4 separate regions of the Homo sapiens genome follow, and regions 1, 3 and 4 are each linked to region 2. The links come from fine-mapping of genetic effects on gene expression. A gene starts in region 2. Each other region holds a variant in brackets. All regions are shown on one strand. Distances are from middle to middle.

Region 1 (8,103 bases), 28 kb before region 2:
AAACTGGATCATGAGATCAGGAGTTTGAGACCAGCCTGACCAACATGGTGAAACTCCGTCTCTACTAAAAATACAAAAATTGGCTGGGCGTGGTGGCAGGCGCCTATAATCTCAGCCACTCAGGAAGCTGAGGCAGGAGAATCGCTTGAACCCGGGAGGTGGAGTTTGCAGTGAGCTGAGATTGTGGCACTGCACTCCAGCCTGGGTGACAGAGTGAGACTCCGTCTCAAAAGAAAAAACAAAACAAAACAAAACCCTCCCTTTTAGAAGCTCCATCCCCAGAATCCTTTCCTGTCCAATGCAGCACTTGTGGGATTGTAATGGTGTGGATAGACAGCTGTGGCTCAGGGATATGGGGGGCAGACCTAGCTCTCCTCTGCATTAGTGTCCCCAGCGTTAGCTGACTTTGTCGAGTCTGGGGTTCAATACTTGGAAAGACCTAGATGGGAGCAGGTAGAAGGACCAGGAGACCTGGGGGAGCAATGGAGTAGGGCTGGGCTTGGATATGTGAGACCAGGAAAAGCACTTCCTTGCATCACAGGTGTGTAACAGACTTTTCCTGCCAGGCTGTGTGGGACTCCTGTCACCAGAGACTGAGGGTAGCAAAGGGAGGAGGTACAAGTGCCCAGGAGCACCTTGGTGAAGAGGTCCCAGATTTAAGGATAATAGTATCTTCTTCCCCTCTGAACTAAATCAGCCCATTATGAATGAGATTTGCTAGTCCAAGAGTCTTGAGGCCTAAGTATCCCCCAAATCAAACAGGCCTTGCAAAAATCTAATCAAAGGCCTAGAATACACCACCAGAAAGTCATGACTAAATGTAGAAAATTGTAGTCTAATCAAATATATTAACAGCTATTATGTGTTCATGTGTGTTTTAAGACAAAGGTGGTAATTATTTCTATAATCAGGAAAAAAAGCCATGAAGAAATCATTTTCAGGGAAAAGTGGGGAGGAGTGGAGAAAAGAGTAGAATATAAGGTCTCCCAAATACAAGAATTTGGCAAGTTTCTCTAGCACTGCCCAAGATAGAGAGACACCAGATATTCTGATTCCCTGAGATGCAAGGGACTCATGCCTGCCCCATGCCACCCACTGCCAGGCTCCTAACACTGAAACCCTAAACCAATATGGGAGGGAGAGCTGGCCTGGGAAGTATCAGGGGTCCTTCACCACTAATGTGCAGGTGGCTGGGAGTCTCTCCTCAGTTTCTGTCTTAGTCCATTTTCTGTTGCTATAGCAGAATACCTGCCAGGTATTCTGAGACTGAGTAATTCACAAAGAAAAGAAAAGGCCAGGTGCAATGGTTCATGCCTATAATCCCAGCAATTTGGGAGGCCAAGGCAGACAGATCACTTGAGGTCAGGAGTTCAGGACCAGCCTGGCCAATATGGTGAAACCCCATCTCTACCAAAGATACAAAAATTAGCTGGTGTCGTGGCACATGTCTTGTAATCCCAGCTACTCAGGGGGCTGATGCAGGAGAATCACTTGAACCCAGGAGGCAGAGGTTGCAGTGAGCCAAGATCACACCACTGCACTCAAGCCTGGGCAACAGAACGAGACTTGGTCTCAAAAAAATAAAAAATGAAAAAAAGGAAAAGAAAAGAAAGTGATTTCTTATAGTTCTAAAGACTGGGAAGTCCAAGGGCATGGCAGCAGCTTCTGGTAAGGGCTTTCATGTTGCATCATAACATGGCAGCAAAGGGGAAGGGCAAGTGAGTGCAATAATTTACCCATTTATGCTGTCAAGAGAGGCATTGATTTCACTTAATGATCTAGTCACCTCTTACTAACCTCACCTCCCAACAGTGCCACATTGGGGACCAAATTTCCAACACATGAATTCTGGTGAATACACTCAACACACAGGAGCTTCCCTGTCTAACCCCTGAGCATAGGGCCAGTCTGCCCAGGCCCTGGACTCCATTTCCTGCCAGACTTTCCTTAGGTCAGTCTCACCTGAAGCTTGGCCCAGTTGTCTGTCCCAACATGGTTCCTAGCCATTCCCTTCCCTTTTTCCCTCTCATTTAAAGCTGAATCCATTAGCCTGTTGTGAAAACCTGCCATTGAAAACCGTCTACTCCACCTTGCCTCTTAGACCGGATCCTGCCTGCTTGGTCTAGAGTTTACTATTCTCCCGCAGTCTTAGTGCTACTGCCTCACCATAGGTTCCCCTCATCTATTGTGATTTCTCCAGTTCCTGTTCTGCCTAATCATGGCTCTTTCTTCCCTTCAGAAAACTCCCTGCAGGTAGAAGGAGAGGCCGTGCTGCAGTATCTCCCCCACCTTATATGAATGATCTTGTATTTGGATATACATGTGATTTGGTGACCATCTGCTTTGGCTTTTTTGTTTGTTTTGTTTTGTTTTGTTGTTTTTGAAATGGAGTCTCGCTCTGTCACACAGGCTGGAGTGCAGTGGCGTGATCTCATCTCACTGCAACCTCCACCTCCTGGGTTCAAGCGAGTCTCCTGCCTCAGCCTCCCAAGTAGCTGGGACTACAGGCACATGACACCACGCCTGGCTAATTTTTGTATTATTGGTAGAGGCGGGGTTTCACCATGTTGGCCAGGCTGGTCTTGAACTCCTGACCTCAAGTGATCTGCCCACCTTGGCCTCTCAAAGTGCTGAGATTACAGGTGTGAGCCACGGCGCCTGGCCTTGTTTGTTTTTTTTTTTTTGAGACAGAGTCTCACTGTATCACCCAGGCTGGAGTGCAGTGGCATGATCTCAGCTCACTGCAACCTCTGCCTCCCAGGTTCAAGTGATTCTCCCACCTCAGCCTCCCGAGTAGCTGGGGTTACGGGTGTGTGCTACCACTCCCAACTAATTTTTGTAATTTTAGTAGAGAGGGGTTTCACCATGTTGGCCAGGCTGGTCTTGAACTCCTGACCTCAGGTGATCCACCTGCCTCGGCCTCTCAAAGTGTTGGGATTATAGGCGTGAGCCACTGTGCCCAGCCCATGTGCTTAGTTTTTTAAGCAAGAGATTTTTAAGGAAGTTTTAAAATTTATTTTTAAATTTTTGTCTAAGAGACAGGGTCTTGCTCTGTCACTTTGGCTAGAGTGCAGTGGTGTGATCATAGCTCAGTGGTGCAATCAAAATAAATGCAGCCTTCATCTCCTGGGCTGAAGAAATCCTTTTGCCTCAGCCTCCTGAGTAGCTGGGACTGCAGGGACATAGCACAGTGCCTGGCTAGTTTTTTTAAAAAAATTTAAGAGACAGGGTCTTGGTCATGTTGCCCAGGCTGGTCTCAAATTCCTGGCCTCCAAACGAACCTCCCACCTTGACCTCCCAAAATGCTGGGATTACAGGTATTGTCCAACCTGCCCAGCCAGGGGAGAGTTTTTAAAGGGAGATCTCCTAGCTCAACCATCGTGTCTGCAGTGTGCTATCCCTGATGTCCCTGATCTCACTTTCTTTTTGAGATGGAGTTTTGCTCTCGTCGCCCAAGCTGGAGTGCAGTGGCATGATCTCAGCTCACTGCAACCTCCACCTCCTGGGTTCAAGCGATTCTTCTGCCTCACCCACCTGAGTAGCTGGGAGTACAGGTGTGTGCCACCATGCCCGGCTAATTTTTGTATTTTTAGTAGAGATGAGATTTCATCATGTTGGCCAGACTGGTCTTGAACTCCTGACCTCAAGTGATCTGTCTGCCTCAGCCTCCCAAGGGCTGGGATAACAGGCGTGAGCCACCACACCTGGCTCCTGATCTCACTTTCTTTAAAGTCCAACCCCACCGAACCTCAGGAAACAGCTGTGGAGATGAACTATTTGTTGGTTGAATCCTATCAACTTCCTCTCCTATTTCTGCATTACTGTTGTCCCTTTGGTGGACAGGGCTCCTAAAAGTCAGTGATGAGTAGTAATGTGCTTCTCAACTCTCAGGTATGAGAAATGTCACCTTCCTTATTTCCCCAAGTTACACTGTATCCAGTTCCAGCCCTCATTTGTAAAAATACATGAGAACTTCACTATGTGTGCATTCTGTGACCCCCTCCTCCCAAGAGAGTAAACAAGGACCCCAGGGCTTATTAATGTCCTGAAAAAGGATGCTCACTCTTGGGCTGTGGGTCAGAATTTTGCTGCTTCTTCTTCCTGATGTAGATGTAGTCTCCGGGCACTGGTCTTTCACTGTTTAGGATGTAGATCCCCTTGCCCTTTATGTGGCATTGACAGCCATTGCACCTGCCCACACTCTCAGGGCCACCCCCTACAGGCATCCTTCACTCACACCCTCCCCAGTCTGGGGGCCTGCCACCTCCCCAGACCCTCTGGGAACACCTGTCCCATCAGCCTCCTCCATCCTTGGGCTATTCTTAGCTCTCAGCCCATGGAAGCTTCCTTGATTCCAAACGTCCTGTATTATTATTATTTTATGAGTCTAGGCTTTTAAAAACAAAACACTCAACTCTCCCCTGGGGCTAGGCACACTTCCATTTTCAGGATAAAAAGTCCAACTGCCCTCTTCAGAGGAGGAAGCAGAAAATCTCTCTTTTTTTGGGGGGGGGGTAATGACTCAATAGGAAAGTGAAAGAGCTAATTTTAAACCAGACTCTCTCTACCCATCAGCGGGGTGTTTTTGTCACTGCTGTCAGGAGCAGGGATGATGAGTTGCTCCACTCCAGGGAT[C/G]TCATTCACATCTGCACTGGGTGAATGGCACCCGCTGGGGCTAAGCAGCCCACAGCCTGCTCTGCTGAATGCGCAGCCCTGGTGAACAGCCCCTCTCCTAGAGCCTGTGCCTGGGCCCCAATGGGTTGCTAGACTGCAGAGGAAGATGTGGGGGTCTCCTCACAAGACCCTGACTACCCACTTTGGCCCGACTGTGTGGAGCTCGATGAGGACAAAGAGACTGAATTCATTTAAAACCCACCAGATTCTGGTTCCACCTGGATCTAAGAGATTGGTCCTCCCAGGGAAGTCAGGCCACTGCAGGAAAGCTGGATGTCAGGGTAGATAGCAGGGCTGGAGGCAGCGAGCAGCCTGGGCTGCTCAGGATTAAAGGGGAGACGCAAAGCCTCAGCAGCGCCACAGCCCTCTGGGGGGTCAGTTTTGCCTGATGGTCTCTCGGGCCCTGGAGTTGGCTCTATCAGGACTGAACTGGCCTGGCCACCTCTGCCTGTCCTCAGTCTGAGGTCCACTGCCCAGCCAGGCCCTGGTGCGTGTCAGTCCTGTCTTGCTTCTGTGACCTGCCTTCACCTGTTCTCTCCATCTCCTCTGCCCACCTCAGGACAGGAGAGTATGCTTCCTGAGAGCTGTCGGATATTGGGAGGATTCTGAACACTCAAGGACTTGCCTGTGTGAAACAGAGGAGGGGTCTCACATGACCACCGTGCCTCTCCAGGGACACTCACACACCCCAAAAGGGAGCAGCCCTAGAATCCAGGGATTCCCCACACCCTGCTCCCAAATCACAGTCACTCCATCCTGCAGGCCCCAAAACCAGCACACTTCAAGGCCAGATCCTCCTTTGGACCTTAATCCAAACCACGTGTCCCTTTTCTCTAGGGGCTCAGGGTTACACTCCACCTCCCGCCACACATCCAGCCCTCAGTGCCCCTATTAACCCAAAACTGGCAATGGCAGGGGGAACAACCCAGCCAGGACTTGCTATCCATGGGCATTTTGTGCCAAGCTCTTCTGTACCTGTTGGGACCACCCTCAAGGGTGCAAATCAACTGTGGCCCGGAAAAAGCCTGAAATTCCCTCATTCCCCTGAAAGTGGGAGTTGTGAGGACAGACCCTCCTTGGCCCAGGTTAATAACTCTGGCAATAACCATGGCCTTTAAGGGAGATTGGGGGCACACAACGACACTACAACACATCAACACTAACATCCATGCATATGGCTTGGCTGGGGAGGAGGGTTTCATGACAGCACCACGCGGGGTTGAATCAGACATGTGCTTTTCAAGCAGCGAGAATATCCGGTCAGATATCTGCACAGTCCTTTGTGGTACAAGCATAACATGATCACCAGCCTGTCAAATACGAGGAGTCAGGTGGCTGGAGGAAGATGGTCACAGCCCATAAAGAGGCTTTTCTCCCGAGTAAAAGCCGCATTCGTCAGTTAGAGAAGAATAAATGTCCGATGAGGAGCCTCTGGCTTCAGGGGAAATCTACTTCAGAAAATAGTTGAGGCCGGGCATGGTGGTTCATGCCTGTAATCCCAGCACTTTGGGAGGCCGAGGCAGGTGGACCATTTGAGATTAGGAGTTCGAGACCAGCCTGACCAACATGGTGAAACCTCGTATCTACTAAAAATACGAAAAAATTAGCTGGACGTGGTGCACGCCTGCAGTCCCAGCTACTCAGGAGGCTGAGGCAGGAGAATTGCTTGAACCTGGGAGGTGGACGTTGCAGTGAGCCGACATTGCGCCACTGCACTCCAGCCTGGGTGACAGAGCGAGACTCCATCTCAAAAAAAAAAAAAAAAAGAAAATAGTTTAAATGCTTTGCTAAAATTTTTAATTTCATTTTCTAAAAGTTGGTATCTGGTTGTCCTTTTCTTAATGCAAAGTGAGAACGTTCCCTACCACAGACCCAGTGAATATGATCCAGATTATGTTGCCATGAACATGTGGTCCAAAATGCCTGCTCAGGTTTTCAGGATGCAGAGTTTCGCTTTGCTGAATTCTAAGCAGATATAAATATGTTAAGGGTGAAGAGTAGAGGAGGATCAGGGTCAGATGAATGGGAGAATGAGAAAGAAAGTTGGACCAGTTTGGGTCCTAATCATAAACATCTTGAAGCCGGACGCAGTGGCTCTTGTCTGTAATCCCAGCACTTTGGGAGGCTGAGGTGGGCGGATCACTTGAGCTCAGGAGTTCGAGAACAGCCTGGGCAACATGATAGAACCCCACCTCTATTAAAAATACAAAAATTAGCCAGGCGTGGTGGCAGGCACCTGTAATCCCAGCTACTCAGGAGGCTGAGGGAGAAGAATCGCTTGAACCCAGGAGGCGGAGGTTAAAGTGAGCTGAGATTGTGCCACTGCACTCCAGCCTGGGCAACAGAGCGAGACCCCATCTCAAAAAACAAACAAACAAACAAACAAACAAAAAAACATCATGAGGGCGTCAGACAAGTGGAAATTGTCAGCCATCACTTAGCTCTGGCTGAAGTGAACAAAACCCTTCCGTAGATGTGACCGTCTTTTTTTTTTTTTTTTTGAGACAGAGTCTCACTCTGTTGCCCAGGCTGGAGTGCAGTGGCTCGATCTCTGCTAACTACAATCCCCGCCTCCCAGGTTCAAATGGTTCTCATGCCTCAGCCTCCTGAGCAGCTGCGATTACAGGTGTGTGCTACTACACCAGGCTAATTTTTTTTTTTTTTTTTTTTTTTTAGAGACGGGTTTTGCGAAGTTGCCCAGGCTAGTCGCGAGCTCCTGAGCTCAAGTGATGCGCCCACCTCAGCCTCCCAAAGTACTGGGATTACAGGCATGAGTCACTGCCTCCGATATATAGAAGTGATCTTCTAAGGGACAAATCTAACATCTCTAACGATCTTGGGACCAAGTCCATGGATCCACTGAGGTCCACCCTCCTCCCTAAGGGAATAGACACTCCTACTACTGAGTACCCATCAGAGACACCAGGCCCCCGAGGACAAAATCATTTGCCATTTTGTGATCACGGGGGCTCAGACTGCACTTTATAAATCCACATATATAACTCTGATGGGAATTTCAAGGCCCAGCTTGGGAGATCGACCATTGTCAAGTTTAAAGCTTTGCTTTCATTGCTAACAATTCTAGTTTCGTGATGAACCTTTTACACTTCAGGAAAAATCGGTTTATTATTTCACTTGTGGGTAATGGGAGTTTCTAGGGAAGTAGTTCCAAATTGGTTTGTATATAGATTCCTTGGAAACTCCAGTAAAAGTTGGGAACCCTCTCCCTAGTAAATACCTATACATTTCAGTTTCAGGGGGTCACAACCTGAAGCCCACTCATGAACAACAACATAAGGAGCCCTGGTTCCAGGCGGGAGCTCCACCAGCTGGCTTATTGATTCCACTGCATTTTTGCCCAGGACGCTTTCACAGGCCATGGGAGGGCTGTTTTCCACCTGATTCTTCAGAGCCCCAAACTGAGATGAT
Region 2 (8,103 bases):
TTAGTAGAGACGGGGTTTCGCAACGTTGGGCAGGCTGGTCTTGAACGCCTGATCCCAAGTGATCCACCTGCCTCAACCTCCCAAAGTGTTGGGATTACAGGCGTGAGCCACCGCGCCCGGCCTAGGGCGGGGGGTCTTGATGGGTTTTATCCATTTTCATGAGCACCTCCTTCTTGAGGAAGTGGACCCTTTCACAGCCGTAAGGGTCATTGTCTTTTGGGTTCCCCCCAAAACATACCCTGACACAAGGATTTAAGTGCAAGTAATTTATTTCGGAAGTGATCCCAGGAAGCATCAGGAGAGGAGCAGGGAAGCTGACAAGGGCGTGCGGGGACTCTGGGAGGCTTAGATCCTACCTCTGATAGGTCCTGAAGTATTGTGATTGACTGTCGGAAGCCTTCTAAGGTCAGCGCCACTGCCGATGCGTTGGTATTACACCTTTGTTACTCCTTTTATCTTAACCGTTTATTTCAAGAGTTTCTTTGCTGATCTGCTCCCAGACTGGTTTGTACCTGGTACCAAAGTTAATTTTCTTTTTTTTATTTTTTATTTTTTATTTTATTATTTTTTTTTTTATTGATCATTCTTGGGTGTTTCTCGCAGAGGGGGATTTGGCAGGGTCACAGGACAATAGTGGAGGGAAGGTCAGCAGATAAACAAGTGAATAAAGTTCTCTGGTTTTCCTAGGCAGAGGACCCTGCGGCCTTCCGCAGTGTTTGTGTCCCTGGGTACTTGAGATTAGGGAGTGGTGATGACTCTTAACGAGCATGCTGCCTTCAAGCATCTGTTTAACAAAGCACATCTTGCACCGCCCTTAATCCATTTAACCCTGAGTGGACACAGCACATGTTTCAGAGAGCACAGGGTTGGGGGTAAGGTCATAGATCAACAGGATCCCAAGGCAGAAGAATTTTTCTTAGTACAGAACAAAATGAAAAGTCTCCCATGTCTACCTCTTTCTACACAGACACGGCAACCATCTGGCTCTATCTCCCAGGCTGGAGTGCAGTGACATGATCTCCGCTCACTGCAAACTCTGCCTCCCGGGTTCATGCCATTCTCCTGCCTCAGCCTCCCGAGTAGCTGGGACTACAGGCACCCACCACCATGCCCGGCAACCACGATTTCTCAATCTTTTCCCCACCTTTCCCACCTTTCTATTCCACAAAACTGCCATTGTCATCATGGCCCGTTCTCAATGAGCTGTTGGGTACACCTCCCAGACGGGGTGGTGGCCGGGCAGAGGGGCTCCTCACTTCCCAGTAGGGGCGGCCGGGTAGAGGCGCCCCTCACCTCCCGGACGGGGCGGCGGCCGGGCGGGGGGCTGATCCCCCCACCTCCCTCCGGGACGGGGCGGCTGGCCGGGCGGGGGGCTGACCCCCCCATCTCCCTCCCGGACGGGGTGGCTGCCGGGCGGAGACGCTCCTCACTTCTCAGACAGGGCGGTTGCCAGGCAGAGGGTCTCCTCACTTCTCAGACGGGGCGGCCGGGGAGAGACGCTCCTCACATCCCGGACGGGGCGACAGGGCAGAGGCGCTCCCCACATCTCAGACGATGGGCGGCCGGGCAGAGGCGCTCCTCACATCCCAGACGGGGCGGCGGGGCAGAGACGCTCCTCACTTCCTAGATGGGATGGCGGCCGGGAAGAGGCACTCCTCACTTTCCAGACTGGGCAGCCAGGCAGAGAGGCTCCTCACATCCCAGACGATGGGCGGCCAGGCAGAGACGCTCCTCACTTCCCAGACTGGGCAGCCAGGCAGAGAGGCTCCTCACATCCCAGATGATGGGCGGCCAGTCAGAGACGCTCCTCACTTCCCAGACGGGGTGGCAGCCGGGCAGAGGCTGCAATCTCGGCACTTTGGGAGGCCAAGGCAGGCGGCTGGGAGGTGGATGTTGTAGCGAGCCGAGATCACGCCACTGCACTCCAGCCTGGGCACCATTGAGCACTGAGTGAAGGAGACTCCGTCTGCAATCCCGGCACCTCGGGAGGCCGAGGCTGGCGGATCACTCGCGGTTAGGAGCTGGAGACCAGCCCGGCCAACACAGCGAAACCCTGTCTCCACCCAAAAAATACGAAAACCAGTCAGGCGTGGCGGCGCGCCCCTGCAATCGCAGGCACTCGGCAGGCTGAGGCAGGAGAATCAGGCAGGGAGGTTGCAGTGAGCCGAGATGGCAGCAGCACAGTCCAGCTTCGGCTCGGCATCAGAGGGAGACCGTGGAAAGAGGGGAGAGGGAGAGGGAGGGGGAGGGGGAGGGGGAGGGAGAGGGAGAGCCCAAAGTTAATTTTCCTAAAGCATGGTGTGATCATGACCTTTCTCTGCTCAAACACCTTTGATGCTTCCTTGTGCCTACATGAAGTCTGAAGCTTTGGGCCTGGTGTTCCAATGGGGCACTGCCCTAGGAATGGGGGATAGAGCAGTGCCTCTGCCCTCACCCCACAGCTGGCCATCTGGTTGGGGATCAAACAATGACAGTAGGATGTGGCAAGTGCTATGGGAAGAGAGGTGGAGAGTGTTCCAAAGGCCCAAAGGACAGGTGCCACAGTCTGGGATCACAGGAGGCTTAGGAGGCAGGGATTGCTGGTCATGCACATATTCCATTCCCCCCTTCTTCCTAACAGAATCTCTGCATTATTGAGCGTGGCAATGGCTTTAGCTAATTGCCACTATACTCCACAAACTTACTTGAGAAAGAAGTGTCCAGTGGAAGGTAAGTGGAAATCACTGGGGGTTCCAGAAAAACTCTTTAAAGGAGTCTGATTCAACAAGAGGCATGCCCTTTTCCCCTTGGTTCTTCCTCTTTCTGTAATCTGGTGTGCAGGTGTGATGGCTGGAACCACAGTGGCTATAGTGTGACCATGAGGGAATCCTGAAGATGTAGGCTATATACTAAGGATGATGGGAGCAGAATGAGAGGAAGAGCTAGGGTCCCTGATGATCTTGGAGCTCTCAATCCAGCCCTGGGCTGATCACCTCTAGACTTCTTTCAGGTAAAAAAAACACAAAAAACCAAAAAACAAAAAACAAAAACCTTCTTTCTAGTTAAACTCTTACTGGGGTTTTCTGTTGTAGTCTTGTTGAACCTACTCTGAATGAATGCAGTATCCTAGAGACTGTGCAATCAGAAGCATTAGCAGAAATTTGGTAGGCAAACTAGGGTGCATGGGGGCTACAAGGAGGGGTTAGAAGGACCAAGGAGGAGATGTGTTCCAGGCAGAAGGAAGACAGTGTTCAAAGGCCCAGAGGAAAGAGTCAGAATAGTTAGGTGTGTCTAGGGCTGGCAGAGAAGGGGTGGGAGGAGAGGATGCCTTAGGTAGGAGCAGGACTTTGACCATGAGGGACCTTGAGGCCTTGTAAAAAGATGGCCTTAATCCACAGGTAAAGGGACCCCTGAAGGAGTGGTGAGTTTGCACTTTAGGTAGATGCTGCGGGTGTGGAGGGGGAGGGGCTGGATAGGAGGGAGCAAGAGTGGAGGATGGGAGACCCCTTAGAAGGCTGCTGCTGTGGTCGGGCAAGAGAAGGCATTGGCTTGTACTTGGCCAGTGGCTAGAGGGATGGAGTGCAATGCGCAGACTAAGAGTTTAAAAGGGGCCGGGCGGCCGGGCGCGGTGGCTCACGCCTGTAATCCCAGCACTTTGGGAGGCCGAGGCGGGCGGATCACGAGGTCAGGAGATCGAGACCATCCCGGCTAAAACGGTGAAACCCCGTCTCTACTAAAAATACAAAAAAATTAGCCGGGCGTAGTGGCGGGCGCCTGTAGTCCCAGCTACTTGGGAGGCTGAGGCAGGAGAATGGCGTGAACCCGGGAGGCGGAGCTTGCAGTGAGCCGAGATCCCGCCACTGCACTCCAGCCTGGGCGACAGAGCGAGACTCCGTCTCAAAAAAAAAAAAAAAAAAAAAAAGGGGCCGGGCACGGCAGCTCACGCCTGCAATCCTAGAACTTTGGGAGACCCAGGTGGGAGGATCGCTTGAGCCTGGGAGGCCGAGGCTGTAGTGACACTGCACTCCAGCCTGGGCTACAGAACGAGACCCTGTCTCAAAAAATAAAAATAAAAATATTTTAAAAGGGAGAATTCACAAGAGTCAGTGGCCTATTGGATTTGGGGGAGGGAGCAGGAGGAGCTGGGGATGAGGAACTGAAGATGGAGACAGGAACCAGAGGTTGGGGCTGAGAATGGTGGAGGGGGAAGAGGATCAGGGCTGGAGGCGTGGGGCTTCAGGCGACGCGAGGTCAGCTGAGGCAAGGGGCCAGTGAAGGCTCCGGAGGGAGCCCTGGCCTGGGAGTCAGACACCCGCCAAGCACGCACCTGCCTGGCGCCGCCTTCGGAAATGTCCTTGACCTCAAAATTCCACTTCTCAGCCTCACCTGGGGGCATTGTCAGCTAATAATATGTGAAAGTCCCTGGCGCTTAGTAGGTGCTCAATAAATGTTAATTGAATCTGCAACGTCACTTCGCTTGCTCCTTTAGACTCTACTGTCTCTGTGCTCATCGTTCGGACGTTTCTCTCCTTTATCAAGAGTTTGGGGGTCAAGTCACAGCCCCTACCACCCTCTGCTGTGGCTCCAGGGCAGCCGGGAAGAAAGGCGCTCATCTTCCCTGAGCCTCCCTGCACTGTCCCCGCGAACTTTATTCCCATTTTCACAGATGGTGAGCAGGCGGCTGGGGAGATGGAGCTGAGTTAGAACCAGGTCTCCCGGCTCCAAGACTGCGCTCCCAGCTCGACAGCATCCAGCCTCCAGCCCAGGTGGCGGGGTCGGGGAGCCGGCTGTCCCCGCTCCTCCGCGCCTCCTCCCTCTCCGCCCCTGCCCCGCCCCGCCCGGGTCCACGGCTCCCGGCTCCCGCGCGCCGCCTCGCGCTCCTCCCCAGCCCGGCTGTGCGTGGAGGCTGCGGCTCGGCGGGGCAGGCGCTGAGCGCACCGCGGCGGCACCCGGCGCAGAGGCTCCAGCGCGGGGAGCCGGGCTCAGCCCCGGCCTGCCAGCGCCGCGGTCCTAGCCCACCCGAGGCCGGCCTGGGGGGCCCGCAGGGCGCGCGGAGCGCCGAGTGCGCGTCGGGCTGGGCCCCGCACCCCGGTGCAGGAGCGCGGGCGCGGCGCGGCGGAGCGCCCCGCATGGAGCCGGCCCGGGAGCCCCCCTCGCGGGCCCGGCCGCCGCCGCCCCTCGCCGCGCGCCCCGCGCCCGCCCCCGCCGCCCCCAGGCCGCGTTCGCCCGCAGAGGCTGAGGCCCGCGGCCCCGAGGGGCTGCTGCGGCGATCCGGGTCGGGCTACGAGGGCAGCACCAGCTGGAAGGCGGCCTTGGAGGGTAAGCGCGGAGCGGCCTCCCTCTCCTGGCCCAGGGACCCCTGCCCAGGCCCGACCCGCGACCCGGAGGCGGTCAGAGTCACCTTGGCCGCTGTCCCGGAGGGGAGCGCTGGGAGCGCGGCGCCGGGACGCGGCGGAGTCATTCATTTCAGGGCGGCCAGACGCCGGTTCGTGGGGTGGGGTGGGAGGGAACCGGGGGCCACCGCGAGTCACAGCCTCGACCCCGCCTCTGCTGCGACTCCCTCTCTGACCTTGGAGCGGGCTTCACGCTCTGAGCCTTCGTCTCCTCACGCATGAAGGGGACAAACACTGCCTGACACCCACCAGACAGGCGTGTTGAGAGGGTGGCGGAATCTGTGGTCGTGAACACGCTTCGAGTAAAGTAAGAAAGCTGGAGACCCCAGAGGTGGTGCCCGCCCCTGTGAGAGCCGCGGGGACCCCGTGGTGGTGGGGCATGTGGGGAGGGCAGGGCAGGGCAGGGGTGGAGAATCCAGGAGAGGCTCTTCCTTGCAAGGTCAGGGGTCACACCTACTCCTCCATCAGACTGCCTCAGGGAGGGACCCCTGGCCTGCCTCCGGGGCAGTAACCCAAGTAGAGAATTGATTTCAAGTTCATGAGCTCTTTAAGGAAACTTGTATTAGCTACCGCCGGCGGCGTGTGGTGTGGGAGATGCAGGAGTTGGTGAGAGGGTGGCTGGCCCTTTGGGTGCTTCTCAGGGTGCTCCTGGCACCCTGAATCCAAGGACAAGGAGGACCTGGGCAGCATTAACTAGGGAAGCCTGGAGCCTGGATCACCCATCCTTAGGGAGGCAGTGTCAGAAAAGGAGGGCTTCCCAGGAGTAGGTGACCTCTTAGCAGGCGTGGAGACAGAGGGGAAGGTGTTCCAGACCCAGAGCATGACGTATCCCAGGCCAGGTGGTCAGAGCTACTCTGTGCCACGTGGGAACTGAGCCCTGGAGTACTGAGATGGGGCAGGGTGGAGAGAGACGGGCCTGAAGGACCCAGACGGTGAAGGGCCAGCCAGGCCTTGCCCAGGAGCTTGGACTTTGTTCTGAAGGGGCTACTGAGGGGTGGAGATGGTGGGCTTGCCCTTGGAAGACTGGTGGTGGCCCAGAGGGGTGGGACCCAGGCTCGAGGTCAGGGAGGGGGTGGGGCAGTGGACCAGGAGGGACATAACCAGCAGCTGGGCCAAGGCAGGTCATGGGGCTGCTGAGGATGGCGAGGTGGGGATGGTAATGCCAGCCTTCTGCACAAAGGCTATGGGCCAGGGGACGTGCACTGTCCGAGGAAGGGCTGTGCAGACTCTGAAGCTGGACCACCAGACAGTGGCAGGGACAGAGGAGGCGAAGATGTTGCGTCACCAAGGAGAAGAGCTGTAGCAGAGCTGTGGGTTGTGAAGAGTTGTGTGGAATGGATGGAGGTGGTCAGACACCCCCCCGTGACGCTGTCTCCGGCTTTACTGTTGGAGTGGCCCTGTGTTCCCACGCTTCACTCCTGCCAAAGCTATTTCTTGAAGTTGTTCCCTCCTCTTGCCTGTATTTCTTCATTCATTTATTCGTCAGCATTTCTGAAGGGTCTGCCCTAACCTTAACCCCAGCCCCCATGGTAGGGCTGCTTCTGGGCTGCTGTGGCCCTTTAATGCCTCCTGCTTGCTGTTCCTGTCCACCTCCTGCCCTGACTTCCACCCCCTTGTGCTTCCTCCTCCCCACTGTGGCTGGGCTGCCCACCTGCCAGTCAGGCTGCAGAACAGACCACACACCAAGCTGGAAGGTCACCCAGAGGCTGCCTGGGGCCCTGAGTCAAGCCCACTCCCATGCTTAGCATCTTCCTGTGGTCCAGCCTTGCCTCACCATGGCCCCCTGCCTTGCCTTGCTCTCTGACTCATGCCACCTGCAGTCCCCTCCCCTTCCTTCCCCTGGTCTCCCCAGGAGCAGTCCCACTCCTGATGGCCTGTGGTCCTTGGGTACTCAGCATCTTGGGCCTACTGACTTTTCCCACAGGAGTTTTAGAATCTGGAGTCTGAGTCTGGCCAGGGGCCTCCCTTCTGCCAGTTCTCTGAAGGTCTTCTTGGGTGCCCCCAAGCTCCTCTCTTCTGAGAGGAGCCTGGGAAAGGAGCCTGAGAGGAGACAGAGGGAAAGGTGTCCCAGACCCAGAGCACGATGTGTTCTGGGCCAGGTGGCCAGAGCTAGTTTGTCCCATGTAGGAACTGAGCCCTGGAGTACTGGGGTGGGGCAGGGTAGAGAGAGACGGGTCTGGCGGACCCAGACGGAAGGAGAGGTCCTCTTCTGGAGGACCCAGAAGAAAGGAGCTCATGGAGCAGGGCTGCTCCTCTCCAGGGTGCTGCTGCATTGGCCCAGTGCTGGCTTTTGTATTTGTCTCCATCATGCATTCATTCTTTCTGCAACATCCGGGTACCATTCTGGGCCCTGGGCACATTTATGTTCTCTCAGAGGTTCCAGGACAGGGACTGAGGCAGTGTGGGGAGGTGCAGGAAGCAGAGCATCTGGTAAAGCTGGGGCAGAGCCTTCCATTGCCACAGGCTGGCGGGCTTTCCAACTTCCTGGACCATTTGCTTCCTTATCTGCCAAGTCAGGTCATGATTTCTACCTCTCAGGTAGACAGAGGCCCTGGAGTGTGGGCTGTGTGTATGGTGACTCCTCTTCCCAGCTGCCTGGACTTGGCCTCCTGCAGCCCCTGCTGGGGGAGCCCAGGCCTAACTGCAACACTTGGACTTCTGGTCAGCCTCCCTTGATTCTGCTTCCCACCCCAAACCTGAGTCCAGAGTTCACGTAATGAAACACTGTCAA
Region 3 (8,103 bases), 26 kb after region 2:
CCGGCGGAGGTAGGCTGGGAAAGCTTCCCCCTCACCTAGGCCGGGCCAGCCCCGCCCCGGGCCCCAGAGGTCCCCTGCATCCCCCTTCTTTGCCTTGCCTGGGTTCTCAGGCAGGGCCCCTGCTGTGTCCGTGGTGCTGTTGTATTGGTCACTAACGGAATAAAGAGTTAATATCTCATGTCCAGAGAAGTCTGCCGCCATTTGTTCCAGAGTCAGAGCTCGGGGAGGGGCAGAGAGGGGCACATCTCTGGGTGCCAGTCTGTGGGGGCTACCACAAAATGCACCTGCTCTAGTGCAGCAGATAGCGGTGTGTGAGGATGAAAAAAAAGCACCTTCTGGCCTCAGGACATCGTTTCATGTTGCTAAGCCTTTAAGGTATTCTTACGTGGCTGTTCCAGCTCCTTCATTGCTAGTCACCTCAAGATGACAAACGTTTATTCACACCTACCGCAAGCCAGACACCACACCAGGCATGGGGGATCTCTGGCCTTAATCCCCCAAGAAGCACGCAAGGAGCAGAGGAAACAGTTCAGAAAGTGCTAGAACATTCTGGAACATAGTCAAGGGATGGTTTATTCTGCATCGGGGCAGGATGGAATGAAGTGAACATGAAAATTAGGTGGTGTTCACATTGGGCTGGAAAAGAGTTTGTGAAAGTCTTATGGCCTCTTCCTATCCCCCTTGAGCTGCCTGGGGAGGAAGCAGTCGGGGCATGGGGTTGGCAGGCAATGCCCTCGGGTCTGTGGGGGCTCCATGCTCTCCTCCACACACACTTGAGGCTCCAGCTGTGGAGCCCAGGCCTCTCCAGCCTCCTGATAACCCCGGGCAGATGAGATGTGGGTGGCCTGCCTGGGAGCCCAGTGTGTGCATTTGGGTCCTGGCCCATTTTCAGAAAATAGCTCAGAGAAACCGGGTCCTGCTGTGCTCTGCACAGTCCTAGTACTGGTTTTACAGTCTTCAGACAAAACCACCAACTTGGGTTTGTTACATTTTCCGCGTGCTTTCCAGATATTTCATAAAATACAGGTGGTTTATGGTTTTATATTTTGCTGTCACTGGGAAGCCAGTGGGGCACCTGAGTATACAATAAAGTAGTTAAGGGAATTCAGCTGGTGATGGTGGGCCTGTAGGGGTGGCTGTGAGGGGCTGAGGGGCGAGGAAGTGGTCAGCTGCTGCCACTTCTCCGGTGGGAGTCCCACACTCCCACCTGTTCTCAGTTACATATAAGCCCGTGTTTCTCACCAGTATCCACCCCTCAAAGACAGTGAGGTTCAAAAGCCTCAGTACTTTTTGCTTTACATATGGCAGCTCCCTTAATTCTTGCAGAGATGCCCGAGGCAGGGCACACTTCCAAAGGTGAGTAAACTACCTTGCCAGAGTCCTGAGAACCACGTGGCCGAGGGCTTCAGAGCCCTGCTTTCCTCCTGCCCTGGGAGTTCAGGGAAGCAATGTGAGAGGACACAGAATGGGTAACCTGTGCCGTTCGGGTTTTATTTTATTTATTATTTATTTATTTATTTTTCTGAGAAAGACTCTCACTCTGTCGCCCAGGCTGGAGTGCAGTGGCGCAATCTTGGCTCACTGCAACCTCTGCCTCCTGGGTTCAAGTGATTCTCCTGCCTCAGCCTCCCGAGTAGCTGGGACTACAGGTGAGTGCCACCATGCCTGGCTAATTTTTGTATTTTTAGTAGAGACAGGGTTTCACCATGTTGGCCAGGCTGGTCTTGAACTCCTGACCTCAGGTGATCTGCCTGCCTCGGCCTCCCAAGGTGCTGGGATTACAGATGTGAGCCACTGCGTCTGACCTGGGTTTTATTTTTTATTAAATGATCCAAAGCCTCCTGCCTGAAGCTTTTAAAGCCTAGTGGCAAATAAGCTCTTTTAACTTTAGGTTTGTCCTGGGACCATGCAACAATTCTAAATCAGTTTGGCAGAGCATGTGCCCTGATCCAGGGTCATCCATGTTCAGGCCGGGTGCAGTGGCTCATGCCTGTAATCCCAGCACTTTGGGAGGCCAAGGCAGGTGGATCATGAGGTCAGGAGTTTGAGACCAGCCTGACCAACATGGTGAAACCCCGTCTCTACTAAAAATACAAAAATTAGCTGGGCATGGTGGCGGGCGCCTGTAATCCCAGCTACTCAAGAGGCTGAGGCAGAGAATTGCTTGAACCTGGGACACGGAGGTTGCAGTGAGCCGAGATCGCACCACTGCACTCCAGCCTGGGCGACAGAGGGAGACTCTGTCTTAAAAAAAAAAAAGAAAGATTTTTTCAAACTCTTTTCTACCAATGAAGGAAGTACAAGATAAAAACAAAACCCTGTACACCTAACTTCAGAAATGTCAGAAATCCTTCCAAGGGTTACAGACCAGCCAGGCCACCCCTGTCCCCTTTGTGGGCTGAACAACAGGCTCAGTTTGCGTGGCCTTGGCACCCCGTGCTGTGTTCTCAGCAGCTAGAGGCAGCAGCACTGAGGGCAGACATGCTACTTGTTTCTGATCCCCAGAGCTCATGTCTCCTTCAGCAAGGAGGGTCTGTAGGACCGCATCTCCCCAAGTCTCGCTCCTTATCCCCTGGGGCAGATTTTTCCTTTTTGGGGTGACTGGCCTTGGAGCTCAGAGCTGGGGAAGGTGCTCCCTAGGCAAATTTGAGCCCTAATCCCAGTAGGCAGGGGGCTAGTAGAAGCCGGAGCACACACACAGCCACGCACAGAGGTACTTTGTGATGGAGGATACCCAGGAGAGACTTTTTTTTTTATTTAATTTTATTTATTATTTATTATTATTATTATTATCTGAGACGGAGTCTCGCTGTCACCCAGGCTGGAGTGCAGTGGCGTGATCTCGGCTCACTGCAACCTCCGCCTCCCAGGTTCCAGCAATTCTCCTGCCTCAGCCTCCCAAGTAACTGAGATTACAGGCGTACACCACCACGCCCAGCTAATTTTTTGTATTTTTAGTAGAGACAGGGTTTCACCATGTTGGTTAGGCTAGTCTCGAACTCTTGACCTCTTAATCTGCCCGCCTTGTCCTCCCAAAGTGCTGGGATAACAGGCATGAGCCACCGCGCCTGGCCTATTATTTATTTTTTTTGAAAGGGAGTCTTGCTTTGTTGCCCAGGCTGGAGTGCAGTGGTGCGATCTCAGCTCACTGCAACCTCTGCCTCTCGAGTTCAAGTGATTCTCCTTCCTCAGCCTCCTGAGTAGCTGGGATTACAGGCACGTGCCACCATGCCTGGGTAATTTTTGTGTTTTTAGTAGAGATGGGGTTTTGCCATGTTGGCCAGGCTGGTCTCAAACTCCTGACTTCAGGTGATCTGCCTGCCTTGGCCTCCCAAAGTGCTAGGATTACAGGCATAAGCCACTGCTCCCGGCCCTAGGAAAGACTTTTTAAGAAGCTTTACTGGGTGGTAGCATTTGGTGCTGTCCTAGAGGATTAACTAGTATTGTATGCATCTTCCTCATAGCCCTGCCAGGTCAGCATGATCAGCCCAGCTCAGCAGCTATGGGACTTGCCCCATAGTATACAGTTGGGAGGTGGCAAAGCCAGGATTTGTTGGGTGGTGGCAAAGCCAGGATTTGAACCCAGACCCATCCCCACAGGGACCTCGGAAAGCTGCATGTATGGCAGGTGAGCTGCATGTGTCAGGTGAGCTGCATGTGTGGCAGGTGAGCTGCCTGCTGTGCTGGCCAGCCCTGAGGATGGAGCGGCACTGGTGGGTGTGCCAGTGGCTGAGAAGGGGCCACCCTGGGAAAGGACATCTGCATGCCCACGGGCAATTCTTTTTCTGGATGACTTTATCTTCATCACACGATATTCAGTGAATTACCCATGGAAGAGTGGGTGATGTGAAGAATGACTTCTGTCCTTCTCTTCCTTTAAGGCCCAGCTCCAGCCTCCCTGGGATGCCTCCCTGGCAGCAACAGCACTCGTGACCACTCCCTTTGCCCAAAGTCTCTGCCTCTTAAGACTGAGCCTCTTACATGGCCCTGTGTCTGTGTGGCCTTGTCATCTTGTGACTCTTCTCTTTGTGTCATCTGACCATTCCTGTCATCTGACCATTCCTGTCATCTGATTATAAGCCTCTCCATAGTGGCCCCTAGATGGCAGGGACTGTGTGTTTTTGGTCTCTTTTTAGTACACATAGCAGATGCTCAGAAATTGCTGTATATGATAATAAGATTGCCTGTAGTGTCATCTGTGAACT[A/G]TTTGCTATGGTGGGAGGTAGTGATGGCTGGCTATTGTCCAGAGCCTTGTCTTTTTGGTTTTGGTGGCATGATTTCAGAGGCACAGCCAATGTGAGCTCCTTGCTTATGTTAAATGAGCTCATTCACATTCCCTAAGTGTGCACATGCTGGATGGGTTGAGGGTGGGGTGGCCCAAAAGTCCAGGGGTGCTGAGGGAAAGCTGCCTCTATCTCCCGAGTGTCCTTCACATCACACACTAAGCCCAGTGATGAGGAGACAGCTGGAAGAGGAAGCCAGGCCCGGGAATGTTGTCATCAGTGACCGGGGTTGGTTTTGAAGGGTCCTGCGATCACTGGGAAAATCCTGTCCATATGATATCACTGTATTGTTCTGTGAGAGGTGACCTGGTTTTCAGAAATGCCCACTCTCTGCTGAGTGCTTGCACCAGAAGCAGGTGGAGGGGTATCTGCCTGTTTCCTCTTGGTCTGTGGCCAGCTCCAAACTGTAAGTATGGGATTCAAATTGGGAGCAACAAGAAAGCCCCTTGCCACACCCATCAGAGATTCCCCGCTGTCTGCCACGGCAGCCTGGAGTGGACGCACTATATACAGCTCCCAAGGCCTGCCTGAATCTGGGTCTGGTTCTACCAACAAGCAGTTGTGTAGCTCAGGCCGCCACATGAAACCTCTCTGACCTCAAGCTTTACATCTGTCTATAAGGCTGGAATAATAATTGCCCTGCTGACTTCACAGGGCTTTGAGAATTGTAAATGTTAATATTTCAGGGGCTAGAAATGATCTACCCCATCTCACTATCCATGAGGCCCAGAGCAGTTAAGTAACACATCCTAGGTCATGTCACTCAGGCCGTGTGGCTCTCCTGTTCTGCTTTATATTCATTATTGCACGTGTCATGCTTTGTTCAATTGTTTACTAGTCCATCATTCATGCAGAGGTGTGAGCTCCTAGAGAGCAGGGACCCAGTCTCACACTCCTTTGTAGCCCTAGCACCTGGTACATACAGAAGGTGCTCCATAAATGTGTGTTGAATTAAACTGATCTTGCCTCCGGGTTCAAATCCTCTTTTCTTTACACCATGCTGTCTGTGATCCTAGAAACCCACATTTCCAATTCAGCTGCCCACAAAGTAGGAAACTTGCAGATGGTTTTGAGAAAAAGATAAATGAGATGACCAGCCACTTAGGATATCTATTAGGGTTCTGTGGTTTAGAGGACAGACTCCTTTTCAGCAGATAAATATACAACGAAGACAAAATTGGAACAACAATACCTGGAATAAGAGTAATAATAAATTGGAATAACAATAACAACATTAATTAAGAGCTTCTTATGGACTAGGTATTGTGCAAAGCATTGTGCTAGCTTCTGTAACAATACCCAAATTTCAGAGGCTGGCCCTTCACATCTGTGGGTTCTGCATCCGCGGGTTCAACCAACCATGGATTGAAACTATTTGAAAAACAAACAATAAAAGAACATAATATAGCAATTATTTGCAGTGGCTCATGCCTGTAATCCTAGCACTTTGGGAGGCCAAGACAGGTGGATCACCTGAGGTCAGGAGTTCGAGACGAGCCTGGGCAACATGGTGAGACCCTGTCTCTACTAAAAATATGAAAATTACCTGGGCATGGTAGCACACGCCTGTAACCCCAGCTCCTTGGGAGGCTGAGGCAGGAGAGTTGCTTGAACCCGGGAGGTGGAGGCTGCAGTGAGCCAAGATCGCGCCACTGCACGCCACAGAGTGAGACTCTGTCTCAAAAAAAAAAAAAACAAAAAAACCCACAATTATTTGCATAGTATTTACATTGTATTAGGTATTATAAGTAATCCAGAGATTATTTAAAGTGTACGAGAGGATATGCGTAGGTCATATGTCATTTTATATAAGAGAATTGAGGATCTGCAAATTTTGGTATCTATGGGGGGTCCTGGAGCCAATCCCTCATGGATGCAGAGGGATAACTGTATTTCTTGCTCACACCACAGACTACTGTGGGTCAGTGATAGAAACCATTTGGCTCCAATCAGGAGCCATTCACACAGCATGTGCACTGAGGGATGTGATAGGTATGACTGCCCTGCACTAATATTTGTCACTTTTCTTTGTCTCCAAGCAGATGGAAGGACTGTATTTCCTGACCTCTTGAAGTTAGGTGTCCATGTGACTTGCTTTTACCAAGGAAAAGTGACACATTGTCATTTTTAGGTGGAAGCATTTAAGAACCAATGTCTGCTTCATATTTTCCCTCCCCATTGTAGTGATTGATTTGGAGGTTCCATAAGACTGAAGCATCCTGGGATGCTAAGCCAATATGTAGGGGACAGGTTTCCTGGAGAGTTGCTTGGACTGGTTTTTTGTTTGTTTTGAGGTGGAATCTCGCTTTGTCGCCCAGGCTGGAGTGCAGTTGCGCGAGCTCAGCTCACTGCAACCTCTGCCTCCCGGTTCAAGTGATTCTCTTGCCTCAGCTTCTTCCTGAGTAGGTGGGATTACTGGCAGCTGCCACCACGCCCGGCTAATTTTTGTATTTTTAGTAGAGATGGGGTGTCACCATGTTGGTCAGGCTGGTCTTGAACTCTTGGCCTCAAGTGATACGCCCACCTTGGCCTCTCAGAGTGCTGGGATTATAGGCGTGAGCCACCGTTCCTGGCTGGCTTGGACTGTTTAAGTGAGAAATAAGGGCTCTGAGATTTTGAGTTTGTTGCTATGGCATATCTTAACCTGTATTAGACAAGGGCCAGATCTGGAGGTGACACACAAAACTTCTGCCTACATTTATTGGCCAGGGTGGTCATGGAAGGCTGAGAAATAGAGTCTAGCTGTATGCTGTGTGGAGTTAAATTCTTGATTTTGTGAGTTTATGTCTTTCATCAATTTTGAAAAATTCTCCACTTTTATCTCTTTAAACATTTTTTTCTGCTGTACTCTTCTGTTTCTTCTCTCCTTCCAAGATTCCAATTAGGGCTGTTATATATGTGTATGTATGTATATGTCTGTGTGTATATATAAATTTTTTTTTTCCTTCTTTTTTTTTTAGAGACAGGATCTCACTCTGTCACCCAGGCTAGAGTACAGTGGTGTGATCATAGCTCACTGCAACCTTGACCTCCCAGGCTCAAGTGATCCTCCTGCCTCAGCCTCCCAAGTGTCTGGGACTATAGGCGTGTACCACCATGGCCTGCTAATTTTTAAGGTATTGTAGAGACACACTCTCCCTGTGTTGTCCAGGCTGGTCTTGAACTCCTGGGCTCAAGCAATTTTTCTGCCTCGGCCTCTCAAAATTCTGGGTGTGAGCCACCATGCCTAGCCAGTTTGAATATTTTCTACTGACAAGTCTTTGAGTTAAGTGTTACTTTCTTCTGCTGTGTCCAGTTTGCTGTTAGATTTTGTTCAATAGATTTTTCATTTTAGATAATGTACTTTTCAATTCTTCAATTTCTTCTTGGTTCTTTTATAGTTTCCATTTCTCTGCTGAAATTATCTATCCTTTCACTAACCAAATATATTTTTAATTTTTCTTTAACATATTCATTATAGTTATTTTATTTTATTCTTTTATTTTTTGTGCCCCCACAGGGATATAATAGTTATTTTAGAGTCTTTACCTGCTAATATCTGTGGGTCTGTTTCTACTGATTATTTCTTCTGCGGCTTATATTGATTATTTATTTTCCTGCTTCTTCCTGTGTCTTATAATACTTATTTTTTGAGCTATAGTTACATATATGGAAATGCATAGATCTTATGTACATTTTAATGAGTTTTGACAATTGCATACACTCATAAAGCCCACATTCTTATCAATTTTCAGAACATTTCCATCATTCCAAAAAGCTTGCTCATGTTTGTTCCTTCCAGATCAGTCCCCACTCCTTAAGGTAACCACTGTTACAATTT
Region 4 (8,103 bases), 490 kb before region 2:
TAATAAAATTGTAACAAGTATAGTAGATTAGAGTGAGCAAAATCATATACAATTTTCATTTCCAGTTGCTATTTTCCAAATTGTTCTGTAATGTCATTAAAATTACTTAAAAATTAACAAAGCCAAAAATTATATTTATGACAAGAAAGCCATCCCTACATTAATCTTACTTTTCCACTCACCGGCCCATCTCCTTCCTCTTTTTCCTAACTATGCCATTAAAACTGTTCTACTAGGCCGGGCGTGTGGCTCATGCCTGAAATCCCAGCACTTTGGGAGGCCAAGGCAGGCAGATCATGAGGTCAAGAGATTGAGACCATCCTGGCCAACATGGTGAAACCCCGCCTCGACTAAGAATACAAAAATTAGCTGGGCATGGTGGCGCATGCCTGTAGTCTCAGCTACTCGGGAGGCTGAGGCAGAAGAATCGCTTGAACCCGGGAGGCAGAGGATGCAGTGAGCCCCGATCGCGCCACTGCACTCTAGCCTGGGCGACAGACTGAGACTCTGTCTCAAAAAAAAAAACAAAAACAAAACCTGTTCTACCTACTTCCTGACATCCAATTTACCAACAAGCTACTGTTCAATCACTTGGGTAGATTCTAGTAGCTAGCAGTGACAGTGCTAAAGATAAACTCCATCCCTTCTCTCCTTTGGTTAGGATCACCGTTCTATACAATACAATGTTGCCTGTTCTAAACTTTCCCAAGAACAAAGATGAAATTAACATAGGAACTGCTTTGCCCCCAGACTCACTTTCATGTCACTGTTCTTACTTCTTCACAGTGAAGCATCGCAAAACCATATCGCTGATACTTCTCTGTCCTTCTTGGATATTCCTACCTGTATTTTCAAGCATCTTGTGCAGCTTCATATGCTTGTAGGTGGAGATTATCTGAAAATTAACAACACTTGGAATATTCAGTCCTTGGTCCTGTAGCAGCTTCAAAGATGCAGCATGGATAAGCTGATGGGACCGTTTGCAGGTCTGAAGTTTGCATTCTCCTTTCACAAAGGATTTGCACACATGAAACTTGTTGCATTTATCCTTGAGGTTGCAGTAGCCATACAGGGCTTCCCCTTTGTTGTAGAGCAAACAGACCTGGTACAGAAATGAGGGAACACCTGAAATATTAGTTTTTCTTTTTTTTTTGGCAGCGGGGAGATGGAGTCTCGCTCTGTCACCCAGGCTGGAGTACAGTGGCACCATCTTGGCTCACTGCAACCTCCATCTCCCGCGTTCAAGCAATTCTCCTGCCTCAGCCTCCCGAGTAGCTGAGAATACAGGCGTTCACCACCACAGCCAGCTAATTTTTGTATTTTTAGAAGAGACGGGGTTTCACCATGTTGGCCAGGCTGGTCTCCAACTCCTCACCTCAGGTGATCTGCCCACCTCAGCCTCTCAAAAGTGCTGGGATTACAGGTGTGAGCCACCACACCCGGCCAATATTAGTTTTCACTCTATCTTTTAAGCCAAAAGACTATAGCTTCTCTAGCTAAACTGAAGACTAAATGACATCTTCTGATCACCAGTGGCTGTTAAAATCTTTGGGGGAAAGCCTGATGATAGTGTAGTGGTGCTAACCATACTCCCGCTGCTGTGGGCACTGGCTGCTTGTGACTCACAGCTGCCCCCTCTTACTTTACACTCTCAGCTGAACTGCCCTCTGTCCCCAAAGCCTGTAGCCAATGAATGACTTAGATAAAGCTAAAAAAATGCTAGAGTGCCTCAAAGCTAGACTCAACGTGATCTTTGTTCCACAGCTCCCCATGAATGAAGTCAAGGCCAGACCTTATGTGCTTGTAGCTTTTCCTTCCTTAGACCCTGCTTCCCTCTCTCCCACACTGGGTTTTCCTGAAAAGCCCGCCCTCAAAAAAATCACACATACCTGGGTCTCTATCTCAGGCTCTGCTTCCAGGGAAACCAGTTTCAACGGGTGGCACAAAGATCTAATTTATGATCCAGACGAGGGCATTTTTAGGCTGCAAGGGAGCACTATTAATAATCACACTGGGACAACTAATATAAACTGGGTCTATCCCAGACACACCAAGACCACATTGATAGGGAACTTTATAATGATGGGATCAGGCTGTTGACCCTGAAACCACGCATCAGTCTTGGCCGCTCACACAAAGATGACATTATATGCCTCCTGATGTGATGCAACAGAAATAGAACTGTCCAGGTTTTACTATGAAAGTCTGACATCCCCGGCAACCCCTCAGTCCCAGGCAAATGGGCTGCTGAGTCACCCTAACAATGCTGCACACGTAAAAAAACTCTTGCTATAAAATAAATCCTGGCTGGGCGCGGTGCCTCACACCTGTAATCCCAGCACTTTGGGAGGCCAAGGCAGAAGGATCACCTGAGGTCAGGAGTTCATAACAGCCTGGCCAACACGGTGAAACCCTGACTCTATTAAAAATACAAAAGTTAGCCAGGCATGATGGCACACGCCTGTAATTCCAGCTACTGGGGAGGCTGAGGCAGAAGAATTACATGAACCGGGGAGGTGGAGGTTGCAGTGAGCCAAGATTGTGCCATTGCACTCCAGCCTGGGCAACACAGCGAGACTCCGTCTTAAAAATAAAATAAAATAGAGGCGGAGGTTGCAGTGAGCTGAGATTGCGCCACTGCACTCCAGCCTGGGCGACAGAGCGAGACTCCATTTCAAAAATAAATAAGGCCCGGTGTGGTGGCTCACACCTGTAATCCTAGCACTTTGGGAGGCCAAGGTGGGTGGATCAAAAGGTCAGGAGTTCAAGACCAGCCTGGCCAATATGGTGAAACCCCGTCTCTACCAAAAATACAAAAATTAGCCAGTCATGGTGGCACCTGTAATCCCAGCTGCTTGGGAGGCTGAGGCAGAATTGCTTAACCTGGGTGGCAGAGGTTGCAGTGAGCCGAGATCACGCCACTGCACTCCAGGCTGGACGACAGAGTGAGTCTCCATCTCAAAAAATAATAATAATTAATTAATTAATTAATTAATTAAATAAAGTGAAATAAATCCTAAATCTGATCAAAATTTGAGGGATACAGGAACATGTTCAATAGTACTACAGGAATGTAATCAGTCAAATCTAAAATATGGGAAATCCTACAAGACACAGATGACCTGGTTTAAAATGAAATAGCATCCTATTTATAATTGTGATGCCAATTTTCTAAAATAAATTCGTAACTTTAATGCAATTTCTACCCTTCTCAAAGAATTCCTTTAAAATAGTTTTAGGAATTTAAGTGATTCTAAAGCTTATCTGGAAAAGGA[G/A]ACATGAACTGATTAAACAAACAAACAAAATTAGACAGGCACAGTGGCTCATGGCTGTACTCCTAGCACTTTGGGAGACCAAGGATGGCAAATTGCTTGAGCCAAGGAGTTCAAGACCAGCCTAGGCAACACAGCAAGACTCTGTCTCTACAGAAAAATTTAAAAAGTGGACTGGGCACAGTGGCTCATGCCTGTAATCCTAACACTGTGGGAGGCCAAGGCAGGCGGATTGCCTGAGCTCAGGAGTTTGAGATCAGCCTGAGCAACATGGTGAAACCCTGTCTCTACTAAAAACACAACGAATTAACTAGGCATGGTGGCACTTGCTTGCAGTCCCAGCTACTAGGGAGGCTGAGGCACGAGAATTGCTTGAACCTGGGAGGCAGAGGTGGCAATGAGCTAAGATCACGCCACTGCACTCCAGTCTGGGCGACAGAGCAAGACTCTGTCTACAAAACAAACAAACAAAAACAAAAAAAAGTATCTGGGGGCCAGGCGCTATGGCTCACGCCTGTTATCCCAGCACTTTGGGAGGCCAAGGTGGGCGGATCACTTGAGGTCAAGAGTTCAAGGCCAGCCTGGCCAAAATGACAAACCCCATCTCTACTCAAAATACAAAAAACTAGCTGGGTATGGTGGCAAGCGCCTGCAATCCCAGCTACTTGGGAGGCTGAGGCAGGAGAATCGCTTGAACCAGGGAGGTGGAGATTGCAGTGAGCTGAGATCACACCACTGCACTCCAGCCTGGGCGATAGAGCAAGATTCCATCTCAAAAAAACAAAACAAAAAAAAGTAGCTGGGTGCGGTGGTGTACACCTGCAGTCCCAGCTACTCGAGAGGCTGAAGTGCGAGGATTGCTTGAGCCCAGGAGATCGAGGTTGCAGTGAGCTATGACCAGCCTGGGCAACATGGCAAAACCCTGTCTCTGCACTCCAGCCTGGGTGACACAGCGAGACCATGTCTCTAAAAGAGTAAATAAACTTTAAAAATGAAAGATAAACTACTTTAATTAGTATGATAGTGGTTCAAGAATTGGAGATCATGGAAAATAGATCCTACACCTACTCCAAATATAAGGAACAGCCTGTTCCTTATAGATTTGTTAAAATTAAGGAGAATAGGGATATGTAGGTCGAAGGGAACAAAGTTTCAATTAAACAGGATGAATTTCTGGAAATCCACTGTACGGCAAGGTGACTGTAGTTAATAATAACATAATGGCCAGGCACAGTGGCTCACACCTATAATCCCAGCACTCTGGGAGGCTGAGGTGGGCGGATCACGAGGTCAGGAGATCGAGACCATCCTGGCTAACAAGGTGAAACCCCATCTCTACTAAACAAAATACAAAAAATTAGCTGGGCATCATGGTGGGCGCCTGTCGGGAGGCTGAGGCAGAAGAATGGCATGAACCCGGGAGCAGAGCTTGCAGTGAGCCGAGACCTCACCACTGCACTCCAGCCTGGGTGATAGAGTGAGACTCCATCTCAAAAAAAAAGAAATAAATAAAATAAAATAAAAATAAAAATAAAATAAAATAAATAAAAAATAAAATAAAATTTAAAAAAATAACATACTGTATACCTGAAAATTGCTGTCCTTACCACACCCAAAAAATAATAGCCATGTAAAGTAATGGTATGCTAATTAGCTTAATCATTGCAATCAATTCACAATGTAAATATATTAAAACACCACATTGTACACTGTAAATATAAAATTTTTATTTGTCAACTACACTTCAATAAAGACAAAAATTTGATAGAATTCAACTATGAAACTATATAAGCCTGGCCAGGCGCAGTGGCTCACGCCTGTAATCCCAGCACTTTAGGAGGCTGAGGCAGAGGGATCACTTGAGGTCAGGCATATAAGACCAGCCCGGCCAACATGGTGAAACGCTATCTCTACCAAAAAGTACAAAAATTAGCTGGGCATGGTGGCACGTGCCTGTAGTCCCAACTATTCAGGAGACTGAGGTGGGAGAATCACTTGAACTCAGGAGGCAGAGGCTACAGTGAGCCGAGGTACTTCCAGCCTGTGTGAGAGAGTAAGACCCTGTCTCAAAAAAAAAAAAACTATATAAGTCTGATGTTTTCTTGTGCAAGCCTTCTAACTAATGCTTTGAGGTTTGTTTAATGCTTTTATTTTAAAAATTTTTATGACACTATTTTGGCTTTCCGTTTCTTCTTGAATCCATTTTGACAAGCTGTATTTTTCTAGAAATTTGTCCATCAATGCACCAGCATGAAACTTTACCTGTCTATTGTCTTTTTTATTGAGAGAGTGGTAAAAGCAATCATCAGGCATTTCATACAAGAGATGTGAGGCACCATTCTTGCCTCATGCACTGTGTTTTTCCACAGTCCCTGCTGCCCACATGATCACGTTTTGTGCCACATGTCACCTACTTCCAGTCCCAGGTGATGGGGACAAGTGGAGGCACAGGGGAGGCTCCTGTTGTAAGTGCAGCCAACCCATCAGCTGCTCACAAAACACTGAAGTAGTCTAATATGACAAGGTGAGGCTGGGCCCAAGATACATCCTAAAAAAGGGCATACCAAAAAAACATTCGATAGATTTGACAAAATAAAAACACTAAACTTCTATAAATCAAAAAGTACTATAAAATTAAAAGGCAAATAGCAGCGGCACCACGCCTTCTCTCTGAGACAGGAAGGACTGGACCCAGCCTCATAGGTGCAGCCACCCTCCTCTCCCTTCCTGCCAATAACCTGCTTCAGCTACTGCTTGCATCTACTTTGGGCAACATGGTTGGTTGGAATGCCTCTGGCTCACAACCGTGACATACCAGACTTGGCTTCAGTGCTCGAAGAAATGAAACAGGTTATGCATGTCAGGAAGAAACCTGCTTGTTCCTGAGATCAACTCCAGGACTGCCTTCTGGGTACAGATTCTGCTGCCTTGAGAGCAGCCTCTGCCACCTGCACCAAAGGCTCCAGCTCCTACCTCTAGTCTTGTGGCTATCTTCCTTTCTAGACGCTGAAATGCATTAGAGTTAAAATCAGGCCACAATTATGAACTATCCTCTGTTTTCTCAACATCTCCCCTTCTTCCCATCCCTCTTCTGGCCAAGTGGAGGTGTCTATGATAGCATCACTGTGCTAGATTAGAAAATCTTGCTTTTAATTGGTGGTCTTAATTGATGTTCCAATTTTCTCTTGGGATTTGTACTATTTTGTTTTTAAAACTTCTTTGTGTATGGCTAAACTGAAACAAACGTACTATTTCGCCATGATAGCAATTATAAAGGGTACCTTTAAAGCATTTGAAACTGAATCATGTTGCTTCGAAGGCAATTAAAATTAATATGTAAAGCCAAAAGAAAAATAAATGGGGAAAGTACTTGTAGCAAATGTGACATGAGGGTGACTCCTTGGTGACTCACCTCTGGTAAAAGACAGGGGTCATTCTGCAAAAGCAGGATCCGAAGCTGGTTTTCATTGAGACCAAAAAGTCCATGGCTTTTCAGGACCTGCATGTTGACAGGTGTGTGGATATCATGGGAAAGGGTACAGGTAGACCTAAAAGAACAAAGCCCTCGGTCAGATGCCCAGGTGAAGAAGGACCAGTCTGTCCAATTCCTTGCCTTGAGCAGCTTTCAATGTATTTAATACATGTGAAGTTGAGTAATTTTCATGAAACCGGGGATAGTATGGCCTAATAAGCACTGATGGAAAATAAGAAAATTGGGTTGAAGGAACTCCTCTCCCAGGGTCATTTGAATTTTCAGTAGGGATGCTTTGAAGCCAAGGGTCGCCCACCTCGCCTGAGGATGCACATCTGTTCCGTAGGCGACTGCACCTGGCCTTCTCCCCGGCAACAGCTGCCACAGTCCACCAACGTTAAAAAGAAAGCGCCCCTATCCCCAGCACCGCTTTGGCGGGGTGTGTGGCTAGAGACAACCAAGGAAAATTCGGGGCTGTGAAGCACAGCCTGGGGTCAGGAGGCAGCCCCGAACCCCAGCTCTGGCAGTCAGGAACCACAGGGCCTCACCCAAGCCATCCAGCCCTGTTTCCTGGGGTGAGACTGGCTCAGCGCTGTTAAACCTAGAGGGCGCAGACCCGCTTCTGCACAAGTGTGTGGATATGGGGGAGCAGCGATTTCCGGCTAAAGGGTCCAGGGATCTCATGGGATCCTCAGACGCCCCACGCCCCCCACCTCCCGCCAAATATCACCAGAATAAGTGAGCTCCGAAGTCCCAGTCCGGATTTAACCCGGCCGCGTCGCGCAGGATCCGGGGGGGCGGGCGGGGGCAGCAACTTTTCTGGCGTGGGCGGTTGAGACGTCTCCATGGAGAGGACCTTCGCGCCTTTCCGCCCAGCTGCTGGAAGCGCGGGGGAGGACGCCCAGGAAAGGCCTGCGGGAGGGGGTCGTCCAGCCCCGCGTCCCCGGCCCGGGGCAGGACGAAGCCCCCCTTCCCGTCGCTCCCGCTTCCAGCAGGACGGCCAGGCCCGCGGCCAGCGCCCACAGTCCCCGCCCGCCGCCGCCTTCTCACCAGCAGTCCCGGTTGGGGCACTTGCCCAGCATGTGCCGGCGGCAGAAGTGCAGCTGGTCGCAGGCCTGGCACTCGCCGCGCTGGTAGCGGGCGCAGAGGCGCACAGAGGACACGGCCACCACCCTCCAGGCGGAGGTGCCGCCACCGCCCACCGCGCCGGCCGCCGCCTCGGCCTCCGCGTCCCCGAGGCCCTCCTGCGTCTCCACCTCCTGCAGCAGGAAACGCTCGGGCCCGGCGCGCTGCAGCACGTCCCGGAGCCTGGCCTCCGACAGCTCCACGTGGCCGCGCAGGTCCTTCAGGAACATGCGG

The links. PIP is the estimated chance that this variant, and not a neighbour inherited with it, causes the effect.
Region 1: its variant is fine-mapped to the expression of CLEC2L in nucleus accumbens (GTEx, PIP 0.90).
Region 3: its variant is fine-mapped to the expression of CLEC2L in whole blood (INTERVAL, PIP 0.90).
Region 4: its variant is fine-mapped to the expression of CLEC2L in whole blood (INTERVAL, PIP above 0.99).

What each region holds. Positions count from the first base shown.
Region 1 is chr7:139,490,816-139,498,918 of GRCh38, forward strand. No RefSeq gene overlaps it. Among named protein-coding and RNA genes, the nearest start is that of KLRG2, 11 kb to the left of the region's middle. RefSeq lists enhancers at 4,158-4,207, 4,768-4,947. The variant C/G (reference allele first, on the strand shown) is at 4,636.
Region 2 is chr7:139,518,820-139,526,922 of GRCh38, forward strand. It overlaps CLEC2L (C-type lectin domain family 2 member L), which reads left to right and starts at 4,866. Exons shown (of 5, transcript NM_001080511.4): 1 at 4,866-5,298. The coding sequence starts at 5,109.
Region 3 is chr7:139,544,808-139,552,910 of GRCh38, forward strand. CLEC2L (C-type lectin domain family 2 member L) reads left to right here. Exons shown (of 5, transcript NM_001080511.4): 5 at 1-178. Among named protein-coding and RNA genes, the nearest start is that of CLEC2L, 25 kb to the left of the region's middle. RefSeq lists an enhancer at 1-120. The variant A/G (reference allele first, on the strand shown) is at 4,206.
Region 4 is chr7:139,027,859-139,035,961 of GRCh38, forward strand. ZC3HAV1L (ZC3HAV1 like) reads right to left here. Exons shown (of 5, transcript NM_080660.4): 1 at 7,795-8,103; 2 at 6,685-6,820; 3 at 844-1,102. Among named protein-coding and RNA genes, the nearest start is that of ZC3HAV1L, 4.1 kb to the right of the region's middle. RefSeq lists a silencer at 7,497-8,016 and an enhancer at 7,591-8,103. The variant G/A (reference allele first, on the strand shown) is at 3,276.